Linked DNA regions of Homo sapiens. The protein of the gene in region 2 purifies or fractionates together with the protein of the main gene of each other region. This does not show direct contact. Each region holds a gene or a part of one and is shown on either strand. Other genes may lie near its edges.

Region 1 (3,500 bases), on a different chromosome or scaffold from region 2:
TATGAGAGTTCAGAGAAATACAGTCTATAAATGGGTTCATTTTGTGGCTGCTTTTATTAAAAACTGATGGCTGTCATGTCTATAAGTGAATAACAAGAATCACTGATGATCAGTTCCACTTTAAAATTTCATGCCAAGACATTTTTTTAAAAATCTCCTAGTGATTCTATCCATTTAGATATGCTACAGCCTGTGAAAAGACTATAAACCTGGTTCCATATTTATTTAGCAAACAGATTATTCATGGTTAACATGAGTTATTTTATGTACCAAGTATTATGGTAGAGATAAAACAAGAATTATGTTTTCATCCTTTTCCCCAAGAAGCTCACAGGGTAGACACCAGAATGTGAAAAAATAAATGTCAAATAGTGCAATAAGTGATAATAGAGATAGTACAAAATACAGCATGGGCAAAAAGAAGGTAGAAGAAAACTTAATTAGGAAGGTTAAGAATGGCTTCAAAGAGCTAACTCTTGCAGGGAAAGTGGGAATATTTCAGGCTGAGAGGGAAGGGTAACATGGGCAGAGAGTGGAGTACAAGCGAAGGCACCAAGGCCTGAAATCTTGGCATGGTGTCATCAGGTAAAAAAAAAAAAAAGAGCAGGGGGGCTGTTGGAATTTGGCACTAGAAAAGCAGGCAAAACTAGATTGTGTCATTGATGCTGAAGAGTTTATATTTTAACAAAGAAAATAACAAAACCCGATTTGCATTTTGTAAAGATAGCTGTGGTGTTATTTGCAAGGTAAACTAAAGAACAATGTGGTGGTAGAACTCCACATAGAAAGTTACTGCTTTTGTCCAGATGAGTAGTCATGAAAAGTCTGTGCCAGGTTATTTATATAAACAGGGTAGAAAAGCAGAGGATTTATTCAATCTTTTAAACAAGAATCAAGGAATCAAAGGATTTAGAAACTGGATATGGGAGTTGAAATAAAATACATTCAGGATTACTCTCAGGTTCCTAGAGCTCTGAGGCTGGATGGACAGTATCAGAGCAATAATTGTAGTGAGGAAGATCAAGTGTGATACACAACAGAAGACACTGAGTTGGGTTTTGTACCTAACAAACTTGTCTCTGAAATGAAGCACTTAGACCAAGATAACTATGGATCAGAAGCTAAAAACAGACATCTGATCTACAGATCTGGAAATCACACAGGTGGCTAAAGATTTGGATGTGGATGACCTGATGAGATCACCTAGGATTAGTGAGTCAAACGAGAAGAGTGGAATGAATGAAGATTATGATCCAGGAGATCATAGATTTGGGGAGGTGGGTGAAGAGAGCAAGAGAAGCCTATAAGGAGACTGAGCAGGGTCTTATCTGAGAGGGAGAATAAGGAGAGCTATTAATATCATGCAGACCCAGTAAGGGGACAGTTTCAGGAACAGGGATTGACAACAACACAAAATGCCAAAGAGACATCAAATAAGATGTAAAATGAAGGGTCACTGGATGTGACACCCTTTCAGAATATGTTTTTCAGTGAAATTATGAAAATCAAAGCCAAATTAAACTAGATGGAATAGTGAATGGGGAGTGAAGAAGAGGAGAAAATGAGGGTGGAGAGTACTTGGAACTTTGTTCTAAAGGGAGAGTGAGACAGAGAACTATAGAGATGGGGACATAGAGTCAGGAGAGAATCTTTTAAGATAGATGAGGCAAAAGCATATTCATAAACTATAAGGAAAGGAGCCAGTGCAGCACAAGAAGATGAAATCTCAAGAAAGAGCAGGGCATGAGGGACTGGGGCTCTGGGGAAAACACGGGGGGAGGAGCAAGAGCACAAGCAGAAGGCTCAACTAAGACTAGAAGGAACTCATCTCTAACAGGGAAAGGTAGACACAGCAGGCACTAGATCATCCTGCAAAACTGGGGCCTCTAAGACAAGCCTCAAATTGCAAAACTTGGGGAGAATAAAAATTTCTTATATTGATCTTTATTTTCACATCAAGTATGTTTAAGCCCTACAAAAATCCTTAAGGTAAGCAAAGTGTTCATTTGTGTCTGGTTTTTGGTTTTTACTCTTCATTCTACAGAAGGAAACTGAAACCCAAGGTGATGTGGTTTATTAAAGCTCACAGTCAGTAAGTGGCCTCCACTAAGGACTCACAGTATAATATTCTTCCCAACACTTCTGAAAATGTTATGAAGATTTAATTACAAAGGTACAAAAGCCACCTGACCACACTTCACAAATTGAAAAGGGAGAATTCCTGTATGAAATCACTTCTTTGGTTTGCAACAGCCACTGCTTGGTTGCCCTAATGCCTTTATTAATACTAATAGGGAAGTGAATAGTTAAATGCTGCTATACCTTCTCTTGAGATGACCTGGTTATGTGCATTCTTTGAACTATTAATAGAGGAAGACTTGTCTTACTTTATCAATACGATTGGTTAATATATATGCTCTATTCTTGCCTGAAAGAACACCAGTACCCTTCCTTATGGGGCCAGGTAAAATTCTGAAGTCTGTGGATTAATTCAGCCCCAGGAATAACACTGGCAATTTCACTATGACAGAGGCAAAGGAGACCCCAAGCCACTCTCCCTCTCGGTGAACAGGAGTACTGCCCTTTAGCTTGAAACATCAAAGGAGGTTTCTGTAGTTTTGCCAGCTCAGCAAGAAAGAAAATTAACTCTGCATTTTCTTATTCCAGTTGCCTCAGCATGGGTTGGTAGGGGAGGGGGTGGGGAAGAGAGTTACACAGACTCTGTCAGCAGGAGAGATCAGGGCTCATTGTGTATGCGCCCTGGCATGGGTTAGAAGGAATTATAGAGTCACCAGAAATGAACACTTTCTAGACTCACCATGAATTTTCTAAGGTTCTCTGCAAGTCCAGATAATTTGGCAAAAAAAAAAAAAAAAGAAAGAAAAAAGAAAGAAAATGCCCTTCAAATATTTTTTCTGTTTAAATTTGGAAACCTGTGGTGAAAATCACTATTAAAAAAAAAAAAAAGAACGAGAAGCTTCAATTATATTAAGTAAAATGGCTCAGCTTAATTAATTCACTAAGTCCCTGAGTGACACTGGGTGTGGCTCAGAGAGATTTGGGAGGAATCCAATTTATCACTAGGAAGAATCGCCTGCACCAAGCAGCAAGGCAGCATCCTTCCACACCTTCCCAACACTGCAAGGAAAGGCAGAGAGGTCGGAATTTTAAACCACAGATCACACTCTCAGAGATAAGATTTATTTGTTGCATGAGGAAAAAAGCAGATATTGGCATGGATGGGGGGCTGGGGAGTAGAGGGACTACTTGCTTGCATGAAATTCTTTACACTTCAATTACAAACTAAAGTCATTATTTTTCAACAAAAGAAACACCTCATAGTTTTCTTGCTTTGTAGACATAAATCACACCTTGCCAAGTTTTTAATCATCTGCAATACACATGGCAATTAAGCTATTTAAAGTAAGCCCCAAGATATTTGAAAATCATAAGGCAATACAATATTAGGGATTATTTTATTTTATTCCTCCTTTGCCCAC
Region 2 (3,500 bases):
TCGCTAATGCAACTGAAGGCAAGCTATAGAAAGCATTTTTTTTTCTGTTTGAACAAAGACATGCACTGTAAACTCTTAGCATTTACATTATTTAATTCTCACAACAACCTTATGTGGTAACTGCTTTTAGTATCCCCATTTTACCCATGAAGAAACTGAAGCTCATCAAAGTTAAGGTTACCCTGTAGTAAGAGCTCAGTCAAGGACTGTTGGAGTCCCAAGCCCATGATTTTGGCCACTGTGCTCTACTAGCTCCACTTTGTTGCCTACACTTGTGCCTTTCTACTACCATCTTGGTGAATTAGGTCACTATGTTCTACCCAGTCTTGGCTGAACACCCATGAGCACCCATTCAGAAGACTCAAATAGCTAGATTTTCTTTTTTAAATGTCTACTTCTTTTTAAAAAGTATTCTAAGAGAAGCCAGGCGTGGTGGCTCACACCTGTAATCCCAGCACTTTGGGAGGCCAAGGTGGGCGGATCACTCGAGGCCAGGAGTTTGAGACCAGCCTGGCCAACATGGCAAAACCCCATCTCTACTAAATATACAAAAATTAGCCGGGTGTGATGGCACATGCCTCTAATCTCAGCTGCTTGGGAGGCTGAGGCAGGAGAATTGCTTGAACCCCGGAGGCAGAGGTTGCATTGAGCCGAGATCGCGCCAATGCACTCCAGCCTAGGTGACAGAGTGAGACTCTGTCTCAAAAAATCTAAGAGAATAAGCATAAAAGTCAGTATACCATGGGTGAAATGTAGGACCTATCAGGGTTCCCAAATGTGGGCTGCAACATCAACAATGAGCACCTGAGGTGCTCATTAAAAATACATGTTCCTTGAGCCCACCCTAGACATTTTCAGAATCTCTTCCCTAGGGAGAATGGCCCAGGAATTTATATTTTAAAATAGGTACAGGTGATTCTAACGCAGACCAATTGGAAAACCTAGACGTATACAACTATCGGTTTACTAGAATAATAAATTAGTTACCATTATCTTCCTTCTTCAAAAATAGGAATTAACTGTTAATAAAATTAGAGTGTATACTTAGGCTCCACATTTCAGGTTTTTTTTTTTTTTTTGAGACGGAGTCTCGCTCTGTCACCCAGGCTGGAGTACTACTGGCGCAATCTCGGCTCAGTGCAACCTCTGTCTCCCCGGTTCAAGCGATTCTCCTGCCTCAGCCTCCCGAGTAGCTGGGATTACAGGTGCCCGCCACCAAGTCCAGCTAATTTTTGTATTTTTAGTGGAGACAGGGGTTTCACCATGTTGGCCAGGCTGGTCTCGAACTCCTGACCTCAGGTGATCCACTCCCAAAGTGCTGGGATTACAGGTGTGAGCCACTGCACCCGGCCCATTTTGGGTTTTAACAACTGGTTTCAATGATATCATGGGATTAATTAAAAAAAAAAATTGGCATCATCAGAATTCTCAACCAGTAGATGGCCCTTACCGATTATTAATATTGCTAGGGGAAAAATACTCAAGTTGCCCAAATGGGGAAAAAAGTACTTGCACTTGAAAAGCTGGTTATAAGAGAACAAATGTAATCAGAATCATATCTTCCCACTGATTTTCACTGTAATAATATGTTCTTATGAGTGTAAGTGCAGGCCCTAAAATTTAAGCAAAATTTTATCTAGGAATGTCAAATACATTTGAAGAAAATAAATGATTTTCTGATAAAAGTATAACTGCTAAAATCAATGAATAAAAAACTATACATAAGGGATATAAATTATACAAAGGGATAAATCTATGTAAAAGGTATATGTTCTGTTAACTATTAGAAGCTTTTAATATAGGAATTCTCTTTAAATGCAGTCCATAGTTGTCCATATAAGGCCCTTAACTTTTAAGCTAGATAAAATTGGTCTTGTGTACAACTTCGGAATTCCTTTTTTTCAAGTAACTCAAGGTTACTACAGTGGTTTTTTTCTAGAAATGTCTTTTTTACTGTTTACTTAATATCTTTTGTAAATGCTTTATGTAAATAATAGAAACTTGACTCTTCCATTTTATGCTGGTTTTGTAAAGTTTCCATAAAAGGTTAAAAAGTTCCATAATGCACTGTTTCCTTAAATGATATAGATTCCTGCATTGTACACTTCCATTAAACAAATACAATTTATAAAAATAAGTTTTAAAAAGAATAAATAACAAAATATATGTAACTTCGGAAATGACCGTCAATGAAATAAGATGTCTTTTTAACAAAGTGAAGTCCACAATTTAAACTGTACCTTGTGTGCATGGCCTTTGACATCAAAGAAGATTGTGAGGTTATGGTTTAGGCACTCTGCAACAGCTTCCCTTAGGGTAGGGATCTTTTCATCAGGGAAATCATTCCTGTAAGAGAAGAGAAAATACGTTGTAGGAAAAAAGAGAAACAGATAAACTGTATTGCAACAAACATTTTGCATATGTCTCTCAATCAAAAGGAAAGAGTGTTTTCTCCAACTTCCTTTTTTCGACCATAGCAAAGTCCAAAGATACTTTACTTTAAGATTTTTTTTTTTTTTTTTGAGACGGAGTCTTGCTCTGTTGCCCAGCCTGGAGTGCAGTGGTGCAATCTCAGCTCACTGGAACTACCAACTCCCAGGTTCAAGCAATTCTCCCGCCCCAGCCTCCCAAGTAGCTAGGACTACAGGCGTGTGACACCACGCCTGGCTAATTTTTTGTGTTTTTAGTAGAGGCGGGGTTTCACCATGGTGGCCAGGCTGGTCTTGAACTCCTGACCTCAAGTGATCTACCTGCCTTGGCCTCCCAAAGTGCTAGGATTACAGGTGTGAGCCACTGCGCCTGTCCTACTGTAATAATTTGAACCAAATTATAGATATTCTTTTTTCCACATTTTTATTGCTATACACTTAGACATATTTTTGTGATATGCGCATAATGTATAATGATAAAATCAGGGTATTTAGGATGTCCATCACCCCAAATATTTATCATTTCTTTGTGTTAGGAACATCTAAATCTCCTAGCTATTTTGAAATATACAACAGATTGTTAACTATAATCACTTTACTATGTTATTGAACACTAGAATTTATACCTTCTATCGAACTGTATGTTTGTACTCATTAACCAAATTCTCCTTATTCTCCTCTTCCCCCAACCCCAAACCCTTCCCAGCCTCTGGTAACTATCATTCTCCTCTCTACCTCCATGAGATCAACTTTTTTAGCTCCCATATATGAGTGACAACATGTAATATTTGCCTTTCTGTGCCTGGCTTATCTTATTTCATTTAACATAATACCTTCAGTTCCATCCATGTTGCTGTAAATGACAGGATATCATCCTTTTTTATGGCTAACTACATAGTATTCCATTGAGTATATTTACCACAGTTTATCCATTCATCCACTGATGAACACTTAGGTTGATTCTGTATCTTGGCTATTGTGAATAGTGTTGCAATAAACATGGGGGTGCAAGTATGCCTTTGATACACTAGTTTCCTTTCTTTTGGATAGATACCAACTAGTGGGATTACT
Region 3 (4,144 bases), on a different chromosome or scaffold from region 2:
TCTGGGTCATAACCATGTTGGGGACTTAAAAGAGCAGGGTTGCTATCTTGGGTTGGATCCTTTATCCAAGGACCTCCACCAGGAGGGATCAAATATCGTTTCCTCAGCCCTAGGAGGTCAGGGTGCCATAAGCTGCTCCTCCCACAGCAGCCTGCCTTGTTCTGTGCCAGCCCCAACTCTCCAGTGGCTGTCTGCCCCAGTTAAGGGGAGCTAGGAGACCTTGAAATAAGCCCTCTGCAGTGAGGCTGGCATCGTTATGCAGACTGATGTTCTGAAGTGCACCAGATACCAAACCTAACAGGATTGTGTAGTGTATCCTTTGGAGATAATGAGTGCAGAGATTGGCTGGCTGGTCTGCTTTTTCAAATTGTTTTCTTTAATAGGATTCCTTCTCATTTTTTTCCAGGTGAATCTCAGGCAGTATGGACTCACTGCTATTAGGCCTCCTCACTTTGGCCTAATCAAATAGTTTTACTAAAGGCATGGAAACAGTCTCAGCCTCTGAGAGGAGGAAGCATGTCTTAAAACTTCTTCACCTTCTGCAATGCCTGGCCTCAGACAAATAATAGGCACTCAATTAACAACTCATAATAATACAAATGTTATACATATCTATACATATACATATGTTATAATAATTTTTGTGTGGTGCTTTATAATTCACAGAGTGCTTATTGTTTCATCACTTCATTTAACTCTAACAACAATCTTTTAAGGTATTATTACCCTCTTCATCTTACTCAGAAAAGTATGGCTTAGAGAGGTTGAGTGACTTATCCAAGATCACACAGCAGAGCTGGGACTTGACTCCAGTACCCAGGATCTCAATCTTGCCTTTTTGCTTGTCCCATACCCGCATGCTGCCTTGATAGTGGACATAGTCCCTGCCCTCATGGAGCTGAAGTTCACCAACAAGCTCAAAGTGGAAGGACATCCAGACTCCTCCGAGGGAACACATACCAGGAGACCATCTGCCTTCTGGGCTTACAGGCCATGGTTTTGTACCAAGAGGTATGAGAGGACAGCAAAAGGTGGGAGACAAAACCTGCCACTTCTGTTCGGCAGCTGCAATATGGCTCAGGTGGGTCTGGAGAGCCCAGCCTGGCTGGGGAAACAGCTTTACTTATTGTGTTAGTGAGAAGGCGCCACTGCTTATGTTTAGCTGTGGTTTGCTACAAGGGTAGGATGGGGCATTTCGCGCCCCCCCCTCCCAATCAAGGCTCCTTCCTCCTCTTCTCTTTCCTTTTGTTAGTTTCATTTCATGCTATGAATCACCAGGTGGCAGGAGGGGCGGCAAAAAGTGCCCTCTACCGGCTCTGACTGTCCCGCCGCTGCTCATAGCTGCCCCTAAGGAGCGGCGGTTCTCAACTTTGGCTGCCCATCGGAACTGCCTGTGCAGCCTGTTAAACAAGGACGTCTGCCCCACCCAGGGCTACTCACTCAGACTCTTCCAGAGAGGGACTCAGCCCTTTGTTTTGCAAAGCTCCTCAGGAATTTCGGATGCATAGCCAGCAGCTCAGGGAAAAGTCTAAGCAAAGCTTCAAAAGTGCAGCAGTGTACAAAGGACCCCTGACTTCCGTCCCAGGCTCAAGTGTGCCACGGACTAGAAGCTACTACCTTACGCCTGTTACTTAACCTGCCTGAGTTGCAGTCTCCTCAAACGTAAAAGGGAGTGAACCCAGGTGAAGAGTTGCTGTAAGGAGTTAAGATATTTCTGCAGCAAGCGCTTTGTAAACTAAACATCTATAGAAATGTTGCAGCACACACATTACCACTGACTATATATCGTAGCATAATTTAGCAGTTTATCAACCTGCCTTCCCCAGTAGACCGAGCGACTCCCGGTTAGACTTGACATGTTGGAATCCCCAGCGCCTAGTAGGAAAGATGACTAATAAATGTTTATTAAATGAATATTAGCAACCTGCCAAGAAACCGTGAGGGTCGAACGAGAAAGCCATGGAGAGGTGAGGAGGGAGGTTATTTTAATAGTAGATCCAAATATACAGCAGCCACACGAGAAGCACAGCTGAGTCTAAAGGAAGGTCCTAAACAAGGCGAAGCCGCCACTGCAGAGAATGAAGTCAGCGCCCTGGCAGGTTGGGGGCAGCTCCCACTAAACCCCTGACAGCTGCTGCCCAGCAACTGTTTGGGGGCAGGGCGACGGCAAAGGGGCAGCTTCCCTGCCGCTCCGCGCCCTAACCGGGGCGCAGCCTCCCGGAGACAGGGTGTCAGTGGCATGTGCTATTTCGAACGGCGCGTCCCCTGCCAAGCGCTGAGGGGTAGCGTCGCTGGCAAGGAACGTGGCGCGACCCATGAGTTTGGGGCCCCCCGAAGGGCTCGAGCCGAGGCTGCAGGAGGCTGGGCCGTGGGTCGGGGTTCGGGGGCTCGGGCTTGGCGCTGGCCTGGTCCCCACGCCCGGGAGCCGCTCCACCTCTGCCGGACCTCGGAACCTCGCCGCAACCCTCTTCTCCCCGGAAACGTGCGCCTCCCGGGTTGCCTGGAAACGACGCCCCCGGTTGCATAGCAACGGGGATCCGGGTCCCCGGTTTGTTTCGCACGCTGGGCGCGCGGACCCCTCCCCACTCGGACTCTCCAGGCCTCGCGGCTCCGCCTGGTGCCGCCTGCAGCGGCTGCTGTCTCCCCTTCCCGTGCGCTGCCCCACATTCCGACCTCGGCCCGCTCTCACCTTTCTCAGGCCACTGCTATCCTTCACGTGCGACTTCGCTGAAACGCGCCACCAAACCCGCGCCTCAACTCGGGGCGCTGGTTTACCTTCTCCGCATGCGCAAGGCGGGATGAGCTCGGAGACTAGCCGGCCTTCCTCACAATCGAAGCCTGTGCCGGGAGCGCATGCGCCCCGCTTTATCTATTGCGTTTCTTTTTCCCCCCACAAGCATTCCCACCGAGAGAAGAATGGGATCGGAAGTTCCAGCAGGGAACGGAAGTCTCTGGCTGGAAAGGGGAAATAAGTGACTATATCTGGGCTGTAGAGTGGGTAAACTGGATCTTTGAAATCGGAGTGGAAGCTAATCCTCCTCTTGCCACCACTCGGCATTTTGGGTCATGTAGTTCTAGAGCTACAAATGTTCCCTGGGGCATTGTGGGCAATGTAGTTCTAACCGAGCCGCTAACGAGCACCTAGTCTTCCCATACACTTTTCGCGCTAAAAAGGCACAAAAGAGAAAGATATTAAAGGAGCAATTAAAAGCACACTGCTCTAGGAAAACGAATGCGCTCCCCCAGAGAGAAAATTCATACCTGAATACTGTAGACGGCTCCCAAATGTTAGCTCAGAATTTCAGAGAAAGAGAGGAACCAACTCTCACTCTCCTTTTTCTGCCACAAAGGCAGTGCATAGGGACAGGAGGCAGATAAATGCTAGGTAGAAAAGAGCGGGTCCCTGGTGAAACCCCACCCTCAAGCCAAAAAGCCTGAAACCATGGCCCAAAGTGAGAACTTCTATCCATGTTTTTCCAGTTGAATGTTGCCTTTTCCTAAGCCACCCATGGCTCTGCCCTGCCTCATCCTGTGCCTAGAAAGACCCCAGACTCATCTGGCAGAGAGGAGAAGCAGCTGGATGAGGGGACGACCATGGCTGGATGTCAGAGAGAAGCAGCTTGTCTTCAGAGGGACAGCTTAAGGCGTAACTTCTGAGACGAATCTGGCTGGAGATAGCTGGACTTCAAGGGAAGACTACATACCGGCCTGTCCCACCCCCCTCTTTTCAGCTCACCTTCCCTCTGAAATCCACTTTGATCAGCAATAAAATCCCAGGCATTTGTCCTTTAATTTGTTCGTGCAGCTTTATTTTTCTTGGACGCTGGACAAGAGCTCGGGAGCCACGAGTGCGGATACAAAAGCTGTCACGCTGGCCCTCTGCCCTTGCTGGTGGAGGGCAACCGCGGGCCCACGGAGCTGTTAACACTTAAGCTGTCCACGGACGACAGAGCCAAAAGAACACTGTAACATGCCCTCTGGGGCTTCAGGAGCCTCAGGCACTCTGCCTGGACACTGCCCCGGGGCCTGCACGGAGTTCGCTCCTGCCGGTGTCCAAAAGCGCACGCTCTGGCTCCTGCACCCACTCACCTGCACGCTCCCTCCTATGAGGGGTGGAACGCGGTGAATCTTGAGTGAGTGGAGT
Region 4 (3,500 bases), on a different chromosome or scaffold from region 2:
CAGAGACACAACAAAAAAAGAAAATTTCAAGCCAATATCCCTGATGAACATGGATGAGAAAATTCTCAATAAAATACTGGCAAACCAAATCCAGCAGCCCATCAAAAAGCTTATCCACCATGATCAAGTCGGCTTCATCCCTGGAATGCAAGGTTGGTTGAACATAAGCCAATCAATAAATGTAATCCATCACATAAACGGAACCAAGGACAAAAACCACATGATTATCTCAAAAGATGCAGAAAGGGCCTTTGACAAAATTCAACAGCCCCTCATGCTAAAAACTCTCAAGAAACTAGGTATTGATGGGATGTTTCTCAAAATAATAAGAGCTATTTATGATAAACCCACAACCAGTATCATACTGAATAAGCAAAAACTGGAAGCATTCCCTTTGAAAACCGGCACAAGACAAGGATGCCCTCTCTCACCCCTCCTATTCAACATAGTATTGGAAGTTCTGGCCAGGGCAATCAGGCAAGAGAAAGAAATAAAGTGTATTCAATTAGGAAAACAGGAAGTCAAATTGCCTCTGTTTGCAGAGACATGATTGTATATTTAGAAAACCCCATCATCTCAGCCCAAAATCTCCTTAAGCTGATAAGCAACTTCAACAAAGTCTCAGGATAAAAAATCAATGTGCAAAAATCACAAGCATTCCTATACACCAATAACAGACAAACAGACAGCCAAATCATGAGTGAACTCCCATTCACAATTGCTACAAAGAGAATAAAATACCTAGGAATCCAACTTACAAGGGATATGAAGGACCTCTTCAAGAAGAACTACAAACCACTGCTGAAAGAAATAAGAGGACAAAAACAAATGGAAAAACATTCCATGGTCATGGATATGAAGAATCAATATCATGAAAATGGCCATACTGCCTAAAGTAATTTATAGATTCAATGCTATCCCCATCAAGCTATCATTGACTTTCTTCACAGAACTGGAAAAAACTACTTTAAATTTCATATGGAGCCTGCATAGCCAAGACAATCCTAAACAAAAAGAACAAAGCTGGAGGCATCACACTACCTGACTTCAAACTATACTACAAGGCTACAGTAACAAAAACAGCATGGTACTGGTACAAAAACAGATATATAGACCAATGAACAGAACAGAGACCTGAGAAATAACACCACACATCTACAACCATCTGATCTCTGACAAACCTGACAAAAACAAAGCAATAGGAAAAGGGTTCCCTATTTAATAAATAGTGTTGGGAAAACTGGCTAGCCATATGTAAAAAGCCAAAACTGGATCCCTTGCTTACACCTTATACAAAATTAACTCAAGATGGGTTATAGACTTAAATGTAAGACCTAAAACCATAAAAACCCTAGAAGAAAACGTTGGCAATACCATTCAGGACACAGGCATGGGCAAAGACTTCATGACTAAAACACCAAAAGCAATGGCAACAAAAGCCAAAATTGACAAATGGGATCTAATTAAACGAAAGAGCTCCTGCACAGCAAAAGAAACTATCATCAGAGTGAACAGGCAAACTCCAGAATGGGAGAAAATTTTTATAATCTATCCATCTGACAAAGGGCTAATATCCAGAATCTACAAAGAACTTAAACAAATTTACAAGAGAAAAAAGAAAACAACATCAAAAAGTAGGCAAAGAATATGAACAGACAATTCTCAAAAGAAGACATTTATGCAGCCAACAAACATGAAAAAAAGCTCATCATCACTGGTCAGTAGAGAAATGCAAATCAAAACCACAATGAGATACCATCTCACGCCAGTTAGAATGATGATCATTGAAACATCAGGAAACAACAGATGCTGGAAAGGCTGTGAAGAAATAGGAATGCTTTTACACTATTGGTGGGAGTGTAAATTAGTTCAATCATCGTGGAAGACAGTGTGGCAATTCCTCAAGGATCTAGAACTAGAAACACCATTTGACCCAGCAATCCCATTACTGGGTATATACCCAAAGGATTGTAAATCATTCTGCTATAAAGACACATGCACACGTATGTTTACTGCAGCATAGTTCACAATAGCAAAGACTTGAAACCAACCCAAATGCCCATCAAAGATAGACTGAATTAAGAAAATGTGGCACATATACACCATGGAATACTATGCAGCCATAAAAAAGGATGAGTTCATGTCCTCTGCGCGGACATGGATGAAGCTGGAAACCATCATTCTCAGCAAACTAAGAGAAGAACAGAAAACCAAACACCACATGTTCTCACTCATAAGTGGGAGTTAAACAATGAGAACACATGGACACAGGGAGGGGAACATCATACACCAGGGCTAGGGGAGGGATAGCATTAGGAGAAATATCTAATGTAAATGACAGGTTGACGAGTGCAGCAATCCACCATGGCAAGTGTATACCTATGTAACAAACCTGCATGTTCTGCACATGTACCCCAGAACTTAAAGTATAATTTTAAAAAAAGAAAAAATATATTTTTTAAAAGGGCAGCAAACAGAAAGGACTCAGAAAAAAACAGGATATTATAGCATCCTGCTGAAAGAGAAAACGAAGCCATTTCCAGTTTGATAAGGTAAGAGAAAAGACATTTTTCCAGGGCACATTGAATTGAAGCAAAAATTCCTAAAATAAAAAGAAAGCAAAGCAGTTCCCACACAAAGTAATATAAATGACCTAATATATATTAAAAAAAGTCATCCCAGGGTGAACCAGGAAAGGGTAAGCCCAAGATGATCTAAAGAAACTAAAAAATACAATAGAGAAACTGTGAAAACTTCCAGTGAAACTTGATGGCTTGAAAACATGTATTTATCTCTCCCCCTTACCAATTCATACTAAAACAATACTAAAATTAAAACCCATAAGGGCAATCAAAATGAGTAAAGAGAACACTAGAGACGAGATAGAAATAAAAATGTAAAGACAGGACACAAATGGTTGAGAAGTCACATTGCCTAGGATGAGTGGGGAAAAAAAAAAAAAAAAAAAAAAAAAAACCTTGATACCTACATGATCCAAGGCATAAGCCAGTAAGAAATAAGTCAATTCATACTTCAGAATCCCAAAAATACTCACAAACTGGAAGCTGAAGTTCAAGTTGGGGCTACAAATGATATGATTAGTTGGAGTGAATTTAAGGTGGAGGTCTTTGCCCCAGTCTCCCTCGGCCAGCCCCCTATCCCTTCCTAGTCCCGCCAGAGATTTATTCTCTGAAGAGGTTGAATCAGAGAATTCAACTGGGGCTTGGATACCAGGCAGAGTGGATATCAGATTGAAGAGTCATACCGAATGAAAAAAAAAAAAATCATGAGAAAGTTGGCATAGAGAACTGAAGGGTCCTCAGTCCCTTCTTGATCATCTCAGAATAGTGACAGCTAGGTTTATATGTCCTAAAAAAAATAAATTGGGTAAGTCCATTTTGTGAGAAACACCCAGTAACAAAAACAAGATCAAGAGACAGCGACATTTGAGAGTACTTAAATAAAACGACTAGGTCTTCACCAAGAGTCCCTATGCTGAA
Region 5 (3,500 bases), on a different chromosome or scaffold from region 2:
CTTCAGACCCTGGACTGGTAAGGCCAGGTCAGATGGCAGTCCTGGGGACATGAGAAAGGCCTGAAGAATCACACAGATGTTCAAGGTCAGAGCAGAAACAAGGGTCAGAAATGGGGTAGGAACTGTTAGCACTAGACAGACAAAACAGTTCCCAAACCAGGAAGCTGGAAGCCAGGAGGACACAAATTCCAGAGCAAGGCAGGGGTCAGAAGTTCCAATGAAAAGCAAATGACTGGTGGGAGCCGAAGGCAGGGTAAGCACGGTGGGTTACTCTCGGAATAAGAATATTTTGTTATCTGAGGCAGCCAATGGCCTTTGAGTGCCTCTCAAGGCAGGAACATTTCCTCACTGGCGCCCACTTGGGCCTCGTTCTTGACACTGTAAAGGAAAGGGTCTTTGGGGGTTAAGGACCTTCCCTTCCACAGGAGCTGTGGAATGGGATTCTCCCAGCTAGAAGCCTCTTCTGCCTGTTCCAGTTCACAGGTGGGTGATGAGAAAGTCCATCCACTTCCTGCTTAGCTTTCCTCTGTGCTTGAGCGCCTCTGCTTAACCATCCGTGCCCTTGGTTCAGCTAAACATTCCCACTCACAGGACCCACATGGGCCTTGCTGATACCGGGTGGGTTATGCAGCTTGTAGATGGATATGGAAAAGGAAACTCAGCCTATCAGCACAATGTCTGGTGTGTCTCTTCAGCAGGAAGAGTCCTTCCAGTGTCCAGGGGCTCTTGTCCAGCCCCTGTAAGTGTTGCCTTAGCTGAGAGGAAATGAAAACACATAGGTGGGCATGGGACCCACCCTGCTTAGAATCCCTCTGCCCCATAGGAACCAGTGTCTCTTGTAATGGCCCTTGGGCACAGCTTCCAGGGACTTAGCAAGGGGCTTTCCAGTAATAAGTCATTTCGCACTCTTGGAAGTCCAAGGCTATGGATTCCTGCCAAGTAATTCTAGGTCATGCAGTCCTTCCTGTCCACATAAAGTGTACCCATCAGGAGGCATTTCTCCCATATGACATTCCCCTTTATCCAGGGAAGTAGTATATGAGGAAGTTTAAGCCAGGCCATTTTTCCTCGAAGGAGAATCAGTCTACTCCCGTGACATTGGACATAGACCAGGGATCTGTGTTACCCAGTGTTTCATTGCTGCACCTTGCATGCCCACATGATTGAACTATTCTTTCGGCCAGTTACTCTTTGTAGGGCAGATAATGTCTTCTTAAAATATCTGGCTTTTAAAATATCTGGTCATTTGCCCTTTACTATTTAGCCTTTATTTTGGAGTCACTTTAGGGAGTTTTTGGTTTGGGTCTGCATCGTCATCACTTATCACCAGATGGCAGCAAAGGACCTTGGTCAGATATGAATATGGCCAGCTGCAGACTGTCAGGGCCTTGTGCTGCTCCTCAGGCTCCACCGAGGCTGTCCACACTCCCACTTTTCCCTCCCTACTTCCAACCAAAAGGGCCATGGGCGTTTGGCTGTGGCCCCAGGCTTACACCAGGATGCTGCCGTTGCCTTACTGTTGAGCTGCTTTGGACAGTAGGCTGCTTTGTAGCCCTGCTGGCCTTGCTGTGGACACATAGCAGTTTGCCTGCTTTTGACATCCTCCCCTGCCCCCATCACTTCCCTGACTCCCAGAAGGGGCTACTAGGCTCTTCTCAGTAGGGATTGGAACCCTGGCTGGGTCACAGCCAGTTGGTAACACCACCCTATCTGTCTGCCCTCAGTCCCTTGTAATTAATGGGTTTGTGTGCCCATCCTGACCCCAGCTGGGCTTTGGTACCTGGCTGGATTGTAGTCCCTGAAAGCAGTACTTCTGTAACATCGCTGCCCTCCAAAATGGCCTTTGACTCATTTATGACAAGCACAGCCATGGCACTATCAGTCTCATCAGCTTCCAGACAGCTACCCCCATAGACAGTGATGAGAGTGGCTTGTTGTCCTCTTGGTAAAACCTGCTTCACTCCAGACTTCACCTTTTCCCGTATACAACCAAGGAGGAGAGTTCACCCTTTTTCCTGCCTCAGAGCTTTTGCCATCATGTCTAGTGGATCAGCCCCTGCCCAGGCACCAAGTCCTGCCAGCAGGTCCTTCCTTTCACTCTCTTTTTTGTCTCCTGCTCTTGTGGCATGTTGAGTTGAGAGTCTGAAAACTAAGTTTACTCCCAGCGCCATTCTGCTGCACCACAGTCTTTAACCACCGCAGGTTTTGGGTTCATCTAGGCAGCTACACTCAAAAGACACCCATGGGCTTGGCTGATCCTAGTTTTTTATTCAGCTTTTTCAGTGGATATAGGATATGTAGCCCAGTGTGTTGGCAGGACAGCTTCGAGTGTCTCTCTCAGCAGGAGTTCTCACAGAGTCCGGGGCTATTCCCCCACTTACCACCTCCCAGGATGGCTCAGGTTTAAGGGAATGAAGCCACACAGGTGGGAGCAGGAGCTACTGGCTTAGAGACTGCTGTCTATAATAGTAAACTGTTCTGGGAGCCTTTTCACCAGAAGCCATGAAGTCTGGTCCTATGTATTTCCGGGGAAACAGAACACAAGGAAAATACTTACCTGTGAGTAAGGAGAAAGGGTGTTGCACACCTTTTCTCTCAGCTTGTGATCTTAGCACATGGGGGCCTTTGCTGTTGACCTGTGTAGCCAGTTGTTAAAGATGTAGTGGTGAATACCGTGTCTGTCCTTCTCTTCCCTGCAGTGCGACTGGCTCAACAATTACCACCTGACCTGCAGGGATGTGATTGGGAAGGAATTGCAGAAACAGGGCCGCCAGGAAGCTCTCGAGTGGCTCATCAGAGAGACGCAACCCATCTCCAAACAGCATTAATAAATACCTCCCCGGTTTTGTTTTTGTAAAATGCTCTGGAGGAAGGAAGAAACGTGGCAGATCCCTGACATCTTTCCCCTTTCCTTTCCTTCTTCCCTACCTCCCCTTTTTACTTTAGACTTTAAGAAGAACAGAAAATCTTCTTATCCTCTTTGATATTTTATTGCAAACACTCAGTCTTTTATGATTTTTTAATTGTTGAGAACAAGCCAAGAATAAAATTGCTGCACCAGAAGGAGGGTCCCTCCAAAGTTGAACACTTGGTGAAAGGAAGATGCCCCGACTTCTTTGGCCAGTGATGGGGAATCAGTGAGTGCTCCATGATGGTCATGTTCCAGGTGCTAGTACATCATTCATGATCACCTTAATGCTCATGAGACTATATTTATGATCAGTGAATAAAAATGTCAGAACTGTGCTTTGTCTTAGCTGTCTCTTTCTTCATGGTGCTGTCCCCCGGCATGTCGGGTGAGCTGATCTCCAGGGCTGCTGGCTCTGTGGCAGACATTTCCTAGGTGGAAGGGCCCCTTTGAGAAGAGACCCCTGGCCTCCCCGCACATTTGGGGGCTTAGTTGTAAGCTTTTTCTTTTCTCTAGAAAACCTAATATTATGGTGTTTTTATCTCAGTTTTTTTTCCTGATTTTAAAATATGTCATTCCTATGCAAAAAACA
Region 6 (3,500 bases), on a different chromosome or scaffold from region 2:
GCCATCTATCGTGTGCTGAGCCCTTGAAATGTGACAAGTCAGAACTGATGTGCGCTCTAAGTGTCAAATAGAGACTGTCTCAAAGGCCTTAGTTACCCAAAAAACTGTGAGACACCTGATAATTTTCTATTAATTATAAGTTGTTTTTAATATATTGGGTTAACTAAAATATCTTATTAAAATTAATTTCACCTGGGCATGGTGGCACATGCCTGTAATCCCAGCACTCTGGGAGGCCAAGGCAGGCAGATCACTGGAGCTCAGGAGTTCGAGACCACCCTGGGCAACATGGCAAAACCCCATCTCTATAAAAAAAAAACATTAGGGGGGCACGGTGGCTCACGCCTGTAATCCTAGCACTTTGGGAGGCCGAGGCAGGTGGATCATGAGGTCAGGAGTTCGAGAATACCCTGGCCAAGATGGTGAAACCCCATCTCTACTAAAAAAAAATACAAAAATTAGCCAGGCATGGTGGCAGGTGCCTGTAATCCCAGCTACTCGGGAGACTGAGGCACGAGAATTGCTTGAACCCGGGAGGTGGAGGTTGCAGTGGTGAGATGAGATCGGCCACTGCATTCTAGCCTGGGCGACAGAGCAATACTCGGTCTCAGAAAAAAAAAAATAATAATAATAATACAAACGTTAGCCAGATGTGGTGGTGCACACTTGTGGTCCCAGCTAGTTGGGAAGCTGAGGTGGGAGGATCACCTGAGCCTGGGTTGGTGGAGGTTGCAGTGAGCTGGGATTGCACCACTGCACTCCAGCCTGGGCAACAGAGCAAGACTCTGTCTCAAAAAAAAAAAAAAAAAAAAAAAAAAAGGCTGGGCGCAGTGGCTCATGCCCGTAATCCCAGCACTTTGGGAGGCTGAGGCGGGCGGATCACGAGGTCAGGAGCTCAAGACCAGCCTGGCCAACATAGTGAAACCCTGTCTCTACTAAAAATACAGAAAAATTAGCCGGGTGTGGTGGTGCATGCCTGTAATCCCAGCTACTTGGCAGGCTGGGGCAGGAGAATCACTTGAACCCAGGAGGCAGAGGTTGCAGTGAGCCGAGATAGCGCCATTGCACTTCAGCTTGGGCAATAGAGTGAGACTTCGTCCCTCCTACCCCCCACTCCCCACCCCCTCCCCCCCAAAAAAGGAAGAAAAACTAATTTCACCATTTCTTTTTACTCTTTTGACATGGTTACTAGAAAACTTCACATCACCTAGGGGGCTCACATTTTTTTGCTATTAGACCATTCGGGGCTACAGAGTTCCCATTTTAACCAGACTCAAAAAAAAAAAAAACACTGAAGAAAGAAATTATAGAATTGTGCTCACAGAAACCTTTTTTACCAGAATATCCAACGTTGGTGTATGGCTTCCTGTAAAGCATTTTGCACTCAAACTTCTACGCATAAGACACGAATTCCAAAGGGCTTCGGATGCCTTGAAGCTTACGCATCAAACAGAACTAGAAAAGCTTCGACACGGAAGCAAGCTCGTTTCGCCTCCAGAACGCGCCAGCTGCTCCCCTGATGAATGCAGGCATTCAGGGCTCGTGGATCCGCTGCCGATGCCTCTATTCTGGGCTTCTTCCATATGATTAGGAGGCTGTTCCTACTCTGTAGTTTTTCATTCCAAGCTGCGTGCGATTTTCTGCAATCAGGTTTGTTTCTCCAGGGTTCAATGGGTGGCGACGAAAACACAGAGAGTTTGACAATCCGGGCAGGTGGTGGATACGGAAGCTAAGAGGATTGCACGCGGTGGCTGCATCTGGGGGAGGGTGCGTTAACTCTGCCAAGTCCCTGGAGGGGCCATGAGTGGCCCCAGGGGGCTGCCAGGTGCACAGTGTCCTCTGGCTATGCTGACGCCTCTGATTCTTTGTCTGAGCAGTGAGGTGACTGAGTTGGCCTAAGGCCTCTTAAAGGTTGAACTCAATGAATTAAGGCTGGAGACATTTCTGAATGGCCTGGGGTGTCAACAGGTATGAACCAGTGTGCCCATCATGGCCAGTGGACCCCACTCCCCCATCTCTGGGTGTCAAGCACCAATGGGCGCTGCTGAGAGATTCCGCATGTAACAGGGCTATGGTATAATGGTTTCCCGTGACTGCCGCAACAAACCACTACCAACTGGGTGGTTTACAACAGAAATTCATCCACTTGCGGTTCTGGAGGCTGGAAGTCTGAAATCAAGGTCTTGGTGGGGCCACACTCCCTCTGAAAGTTCAAGGGAGGATCCTTCCTCGCCTCTTCCAGCTTCTGGTGGTCCCAGTGTTCCTTGGCTTGTGGCTCCGTCCCTCCAGTCCCTGTTTCTCATTTCGCATGGCCGTCTTCTCCCTATGTTTCTTGGTGTTTCTGTGTCCAAATTCCCCACTTCTTATAAGGACAGCAATCATTACACTGAGGGTCCACCCTAATCCAAGACGATCTCATTTAACTTTATCACATCTGCAGACCCCACTCCCAAACAAGGGCTCACTCACAGGTCCAGGATTAGGACTGGAACACATATTCTTGAGGAGCACATTTCAGCCCACATGACTGGCTAAGCAGTGGGACCCACAGCCCTCCTGCTCTTATTAACCAAGGGTGGGCTGGGTGTGGTGGCTCACGCCTACAATCTCAGCACTTTGGGAGGCTGAAACAGTAGAATGGTTTGAGCCCAAGAGTTTGAGACCAGCCTGGGCAACATGGTAAGACCCTGTCTCTACAGAAAATTCAAAAATTAGCCAGGTGTGGTGGCATGGGCCTGTGGTCCCAGCTACTCGGGAGGCTGAGGTGGGAGGATCACGAGCCCAGGAAGTTGAGGCTGTAGTGAGCTGTGATTGAGCCACTGCACTCCAGCCTGGGCAACAGAGTGAGATCCTAAACAAAAACAAACAAAAAGGGCCTCTTTGTGCCAGGTGCAGAGCTGGGGCCAGAGTGCAGCCTGGAGATGCCAGGCCTAGGCTGTTGACACAAATGATGTGGTTTATGACAACACCTGCGTTCCCTCTGGGAGTCTAGAATTTTGACACGTGTCAAGCAGAGGGTGACTACATGACCAGCCCCCAGTAAAAAGCCTGGGCAGGGAGTCCTTGGTGGGCACCCTCTGCTGGGGGAATTAAGTGTGTCCCGTATGACTCCACAGGGAGAGAACTCTGAAGCTTGGGCCTGGCCTGCCCGGGAATTCGCGCACCTTTTCCCTTTGCTGATGGTGTTTGCGTCCTTCCGTCACAATAAATCACGGCTGTGAGGACAACTATATGCTGAGTCCTGCCAGTGCTCCTAGGGAACCGGTGAGCCTGTAGATGGTCTTAGGAACCCTGCCACATGCAGCAACTGCAGACCTTCCCGTGAGACAGGTGGCAGCTGGGACCAGGGACCAGGGCGGTGGGGCTGGAAAGAGCCCAGCTGGGGAATTTCCTCTGGAAAGGCCCAGGGGAAGAGCGGCCTCCACCTTGTGGACAGAAGGAGAGCAGTGGAGCGGGGGCAGCTAGGAGATCCCTGTTTACCTGGCACACCATGGGGCACG
Region 7 (4,254 bases), on a different chromosome or scaffold from region 2:
CCCCACATGCTGCCCCTCAGCCACCTGCCAGCCCTGTTTTATGAGTATGTTTACCGTGGCTGTCACTTTGTCCCGGTCTGTCACAAAGGCACGGAATCCTTCCCCAAACAAGGTGCCAGCCGCCCTGTGGGGAAAGCAGTGGTGTGACCAGGAGGGAAACAAAGACCCACGCCACGTAGCAAGAACAGGTTGAGGGTGAGGCCTTGACACAGCAGCCTGGTCCTGCCAGGACAGGGGGGCAGTGTCCCCACCAAGGAGCCAGCCTACAGCGGCCAGACCTGGGAGAGCTGGAGAGCACCCTGGGACCAGCGACTCACACCTGTGGGGGCTCCATCTGCGGCCGGCCCGGGCCTCGGCAGCGCTCACCTGATGGACTCCAAGAAGGTCTGATGGTGCTTCTGCACGGACTCCTCCTGCTTCCGTAAATCCTCATTGACAAGTTGCTGAGAAGAAGCCGCAGAAAAAGAGAAAAGCCTTTAAAACCAGAAAAATGCTCAACACCAATCCAGAGGTTGCGTCCGCCCCAGGACCGCAGGGCTCCAAGCGTCCCGGGCACCTGGGGACCTGCAGACGCCGCACCCTGACACAGACACGGGTGACATCGGCCGGGACGGCAGTCACTGAGGGGATGGGTTCAGGGGCCCAAACTCCCCAGCGGCAGAAACAGCCCCCACTGTGGCTTCCCTGACAAGGGCCACTGCTGGCCGACCTCCCAACACCACTGCCCTGATTCAGGCTGGGCTTAAGGAAGCTTCTGTCTTCTGCCAATTAAACGTTAAAGCTACAATGCCCACAACAGGCAACACGTGAACCCCGCCTGTGAGCTCAGGACTGAAGGTGACCGGCCGGGCACCGTGGCTCACACCTGTAATCCCAGCACTTTGGGAGGCCGACGCAGGTGATCACTTGAGGTCAGGAGTTCAAAACTAGCCTGGCCAGCATGGTGAAACCCTGTCTCTAATAAAAATACAAAAATTAGCCGAGTATGGTGGTGGGTGCCTGTAATCCCAGCGACTTGGGAGGCTGAGGCAGGAGAATGGCTTGAACCCAGGAGGCAGAGGTTGCGGTGAGCTGAGATCGCACCATTGCACTCCAGCCTGGGCAACAGAGTGAGACTCCGTTTCAAAATAAATAAAATTAAAAAATCTTGCTGAGCTGGACGCGGTGGCTCACGCCTGTAATCCCAGCACTTTGGGAGGCTGAGGCAGGCGGAGATCAGGAAATCGACACCATCCTGGCTGACACGCTGAAACCCCATCTCTACTAAATATACAAAAAAAATTAGCTGGGCGTGGTGGCAGGTGCCTGTAGTCCCAGCTCCTCAGGAGGCTGAGGCAGGAGAATGGTGTGAACCCGGGAGGTGGAGCTTGCAGTGAGCCAAGGTCGCACCACTGCACTCCAGCCTGGGCGACAGAGCAAGACACCATCTCAAAAAAAAAAAAAATCCTGCTGAGTCAAAGAAATGAGGTGAGAATGTCAAGAAGATCCAGGCCCTCAGGACGACCAGACGCCCTCACCAACACCGGCCCTCCCTCTCGGGCGGCTCTGCGGCAGCGTCTCTCACCTCCCCTTGTTTCCTTCTGTGAAATGAGGCGCCCAAGCTTGGCCCTGGGCCCCACTGCTGCCCATGTACACACCCCCGGCCCTACCCACCGGCAGTAGCCCTACCAATCTCCACGCCCGAACCCCATGTGTGCCCCGGCCTCCCCGCCCACACCGGCCCCACTCACTTTGAGCTTGGACTGTTGCTCCAACTGCAGCGTCTGCTCCTGCATCTGCGCCAGATTCAGGGCGTCCTTTGACATGGCCTGCAGATGCAGGGACACGGAGGGCAGGTGTTAGGATACACGGATGCCGCTGGGCAGGCACGCACACCAGCCAAGGGGCTTTCTGGAATCCACGGCCACGCCTCGACCTCAAAGCCCCCAGCCCTGCCTCCCCATCCTCCTTCCTAGTCAGACCTGGCGTGACGATGCCCCATCCCCAGCACACGGCCTGATGCATTTGTGAGGTTTTATGCCCTCCAGGGATGGTCTTGGAGAGCCACATCAGGAAGGCCATCCCATGTGGACGGGAGGAGGCTCTTTCCCAATTCAACAGAAAGTCAGGCGATGGCTAAAGTGTCCATTTTTTCACGTTACACATGCTTTTTTTTTTTTTTTTTTTGAGACGGAGTCTCATTCTGGCCCAGGCTGGAGTGCAGTGGCATGATCTCTGCTTACTGCAAGCTCTACCTCTCGGGTTCACGTCACTCTCCTGCCTCAGCCTCCCGAGTAGCTGGGACTACAGGCGACCGCCACCACACCCGGCTAATTTTTGTAGTTTTAGTAGAGACGGTTTCACCGTGTTAGCCAGGATGGTCTCGATCTCCTGACCTCGTGATCCGCCCACCTCAGCCTCCCAAAGTGCTGGGATTACAGGTGTGAGCCACCGCGCCCGGCACATACCCTTTTCCTAAGCTTCCAATGGCTGTTGTCAGTGATCTGCTATCAAGAACGTGCGGGCAAGAAAATGAAAGAATAAGAATTAGATAGCAGCCAACAAGCTCAGGGTGACGAGGACAAGCATCTGACAACGTCCTCAGTTACATTTTGTTCCTAGTGGGGAACCGACACAGGTCAATGTTTGGGTGACCTGGGACAGAAGTACGTATTCTCTGAGCTGCTGAGGACTCAGCATCAGGTCTCAACATTTTCCGGGATGAGTTTTCCCATCACAAAATTTTACCATAAAAATCTTCTGGCCGGGCGCGGTGGCCCATTGAGAAAATATGCAGGACCTTGGGGAGTTAATCATGAAGGGGATTAAAGAATCCATGCCCGGAACCCAGAATCTTACCCGAATATTTAACATACAGCAAGGAAAAGATAAAGGGCCTGCGACATAATTTTTAGACAGATTAAAAGAACAAATGAGAAAATATGCTGGTCGAGGTGTCGAGGATCCTCTTGGGCAAGGAATTTGTCACTAACAGTTGGCCAGATATTAACCACAAATTACAAAAGAAAGAACTAGAAAAATAAGCCTGTAGAAGAGATTCTAAGAGAAAGGGAAAAAAATCTTAGAGGAAAGAGAAAGACTGACAGAAGGAACAGAGAAAGTCAGAGAGAGAGAGAGAGTCAGAGAGAGAGAGAGACAGAGTCAGAGAGACAGAGTCAAAGAGAGAGAAAGACTGACAGAGGGAACAGAGGAAGTCAGAGAGAGAGAGAGAGTCAAAGAGAGAGAGAGACAGGCAGAGACAGAGTCAGAGAGAGAGACAGAGTTAGAGAGTGAGACAGAGACAGACAGAGAGAGACAGAGTCAAAGAGACAGAGAGAGCCAGAGAGAGAGAGAGACAGAGTTAGAGAGAGAGAGAAAAGGAGAGATAGAAGTAGTCAAGAAAAAGCAATGTGCCCCATTCTTTTAAAAGCCAGAGTACGCCCGGCGTGGCAGCTCACCACGCCTGTAATCCCAGCACTTTGGGAGGCCGAGGCGGGCAGTTCAGGAGGTCAGGAGATCATCCTGGTTAACATGGTGAAACCCTGTCTCTACTAAAAATACAAAAAATTAGCCGGGTGCGGTGGTGGATGCCTGCAATCCCAGCTATGCAGGAGGCTGAGGCAGGAGAATTGCTTGAACCCAGGAAAGACAGAGGTTGCAGTGAGCCGACACAGTGCCACTGCACTCCAGCCTCGACGACGAATGAGACTCTGTCTCAAAAAAAAAAAAAAAAACAACTTACCGAAAGGCATGGAGGCCACTGACAACTATCCTTAATGTGGTAACCCACAGACGGCCGTAGTGCATTACAGGACGACACTTATTTAAAGATAGTTCCTCCCAGGTGATTCGAGGAAAAAGACACAATGGGTAATCAGTAACTAACAGGAAAAACTCTTGTGGAAATAGAGTTAAGAGGCCGGGCTCTGTGGCTCACACCTGTAATCCCTGCACTCTGGGAGGCTGAGGCGAGTGGATCACCTGAGGTCAGGATCACCTGAGGTCAGGAGTTCGACAGCAGCCTGGCCAACATGGTGAAACCCCATCTCTACTAAAAATACAAAAATTAGCTGGCCGTAGTGGCAAGCACCTGTAATCCCAACTACTCAGCATGCTGAGGCAGGAGAATCGCTTAAACTCAGGAGGTGGAGGCTGCAATGAGCCGAGATCACGCCATTGTACTCCAGCCTGGGTGACAGAGTAAGACCTCCGTGTCAAAAAATAAAAAATAAAAAAATAGAGTTAAGAAAGTTTCCTAATAACTGGTCTGCTCAA

What was found.
Region 1: the proteins of GDE1 (region 2) and GAP43 purify together in Homo sapiens (affinity purification with mass spectrometry; one large-scale study listed by BioGRID and IntAct). This does not show direct contact.
Region 3: the proteins of GDE1 (region 2) and TMEM109 purify together in Homo sapiens (affinity purification with mass spectrometry, with the first as the bait; one large-scale study listed by BioGRID). This does not show direct contact.
Region 4: the proteins of GDE1 (region 2) and CDK14 purify together in Homo sapiens (affinity purification with mass spectrometry; 2 studies listed by BioGRID and IntAct, with this or other methods). This does not show direct contact.
Region 5: the proteins of GDE1 (region 2) and XPNPEP1 purify together in Homo sapiens (affinity purification with mass spectrometry; one large-scale study listed by BioGRID and IntAct). This does not show direct contact.
Region 6: the proteins of GDE1 (region 2) and BRI3BP purify together in Homo sapiens (affinity purification with mass spectrometry; 2 studies listed by BioGRID and IntAct, with this or other methods). This does not show direct contact.
Region 7: the proteins of GDE1 (region 2) and ATAD3C purify together in Homo sapiens (affinity purification with mass spectrometry; 2 studies listed by BioGRID and IntAct, with this or other methods). This does not show direct contact.

Annotation. Positions count from the first base shown.
Region 1 is NC_000003.12:115,626,510-115,630,009, reverse strand, and holds part of GAP43 (neuromodulin), read right to left. Parts: intron 1-3,500. UniProt on the Homo sapiens protein: This protein is associated with nerve growth. It is a major component of the motile 'growth cones' that form the tips of elongating axons. Plays a role in axonal and dendritic filopodia induction.
Region 2 is NC_000016.10:19,508,599-19,512,098, forward strand, and holds part of GDE1 (glycerophosphodiester phosphodiesterase 1), read right to left. Parts: intron 2,347-3,500; coding exon 2,241-2,346; intron 1-2,240. UniProt on the Homo sapiens protein: Hydrolyzes the phosphodiester bond of glycerophosphodiesters such as glycerophosphoinositol (GroPIns) and glycerophosphoethanolamine (GroPEth), to yield a glycerol phosphate and an alcohol.
Region 3 is NC_000011.10:60,912,814-60,916,957, reverse strand, and holds the start of TMEM109 (voltage-gated monoatomic cation channel TMEM109 precursor), read right to left. Parts: upstream 2,801-4,144; 5' UTR 2,690-2,800; intron 1-2,689. UniProt on the Homo sapiens protein: Functions as a voltage-gated monoatomic cation channel permeable to both potassium and calcium. Plays a role in the cellular response to DNA damage.
Region 4 is NC_000007.14:90,728,821-90,732,320, reverse strand, and holds part of CDK14 (cyclin-dependent kinase 14), read right to left. Parts: intron 1-3,500. UniProt on the Homo sapiens protein: Serine/threonine-protein kinase involved in the control of the eukaryotic cell cycle, whose activity is controlled by an associated cyclin.
Region 5 is NC_000010.11:109,864,512-109,868,011, reverse strand, and holds the end of XPNPEP1 (xaa-Pro aminopeptidase 1), read left to right. Parts: intron 1-425; coding exon of another isoform or gene 426-483; intron 484-2,699; coding exon 2,700-2,828; coding exon of another isoform or gene 2,829-2,857; 3' UTR 2,858-3,246; downstream 3,247-3,500. UniProt on the Homo sapiens protein: Metalloaminopeptidase that catalyzes the removal of a penultimate prolyl residue from the N-termini of peptides, such as Arg-Pro-Pro. Contributes to the degradation of bradykinin.
Region 6 is NC_000012.12:125,014,145-125,017,644, reverse strand, and holds part of BRI3BP (BRI3-binding protein precursor), read right to left. Parts: intron 1-3,500. UniProt on the Homo sapiens protein: Involved in tumorigenesis and may function by stabilizing p53/TP53.
Region 7 is NC_000001.11:1,448,235-1,452,488, reverse strand, and holds the start of ATAD3C (ATPase family AAA domain-containing protein 3C), read right to left. Parts: upstream 2,801-4,254; 5' UTR 1,806-2,800; coding exon 1,731-1,805; intron 444-1,730; coding exon 367-443; intron 125-366; coding exon 55-124; intron 1-54.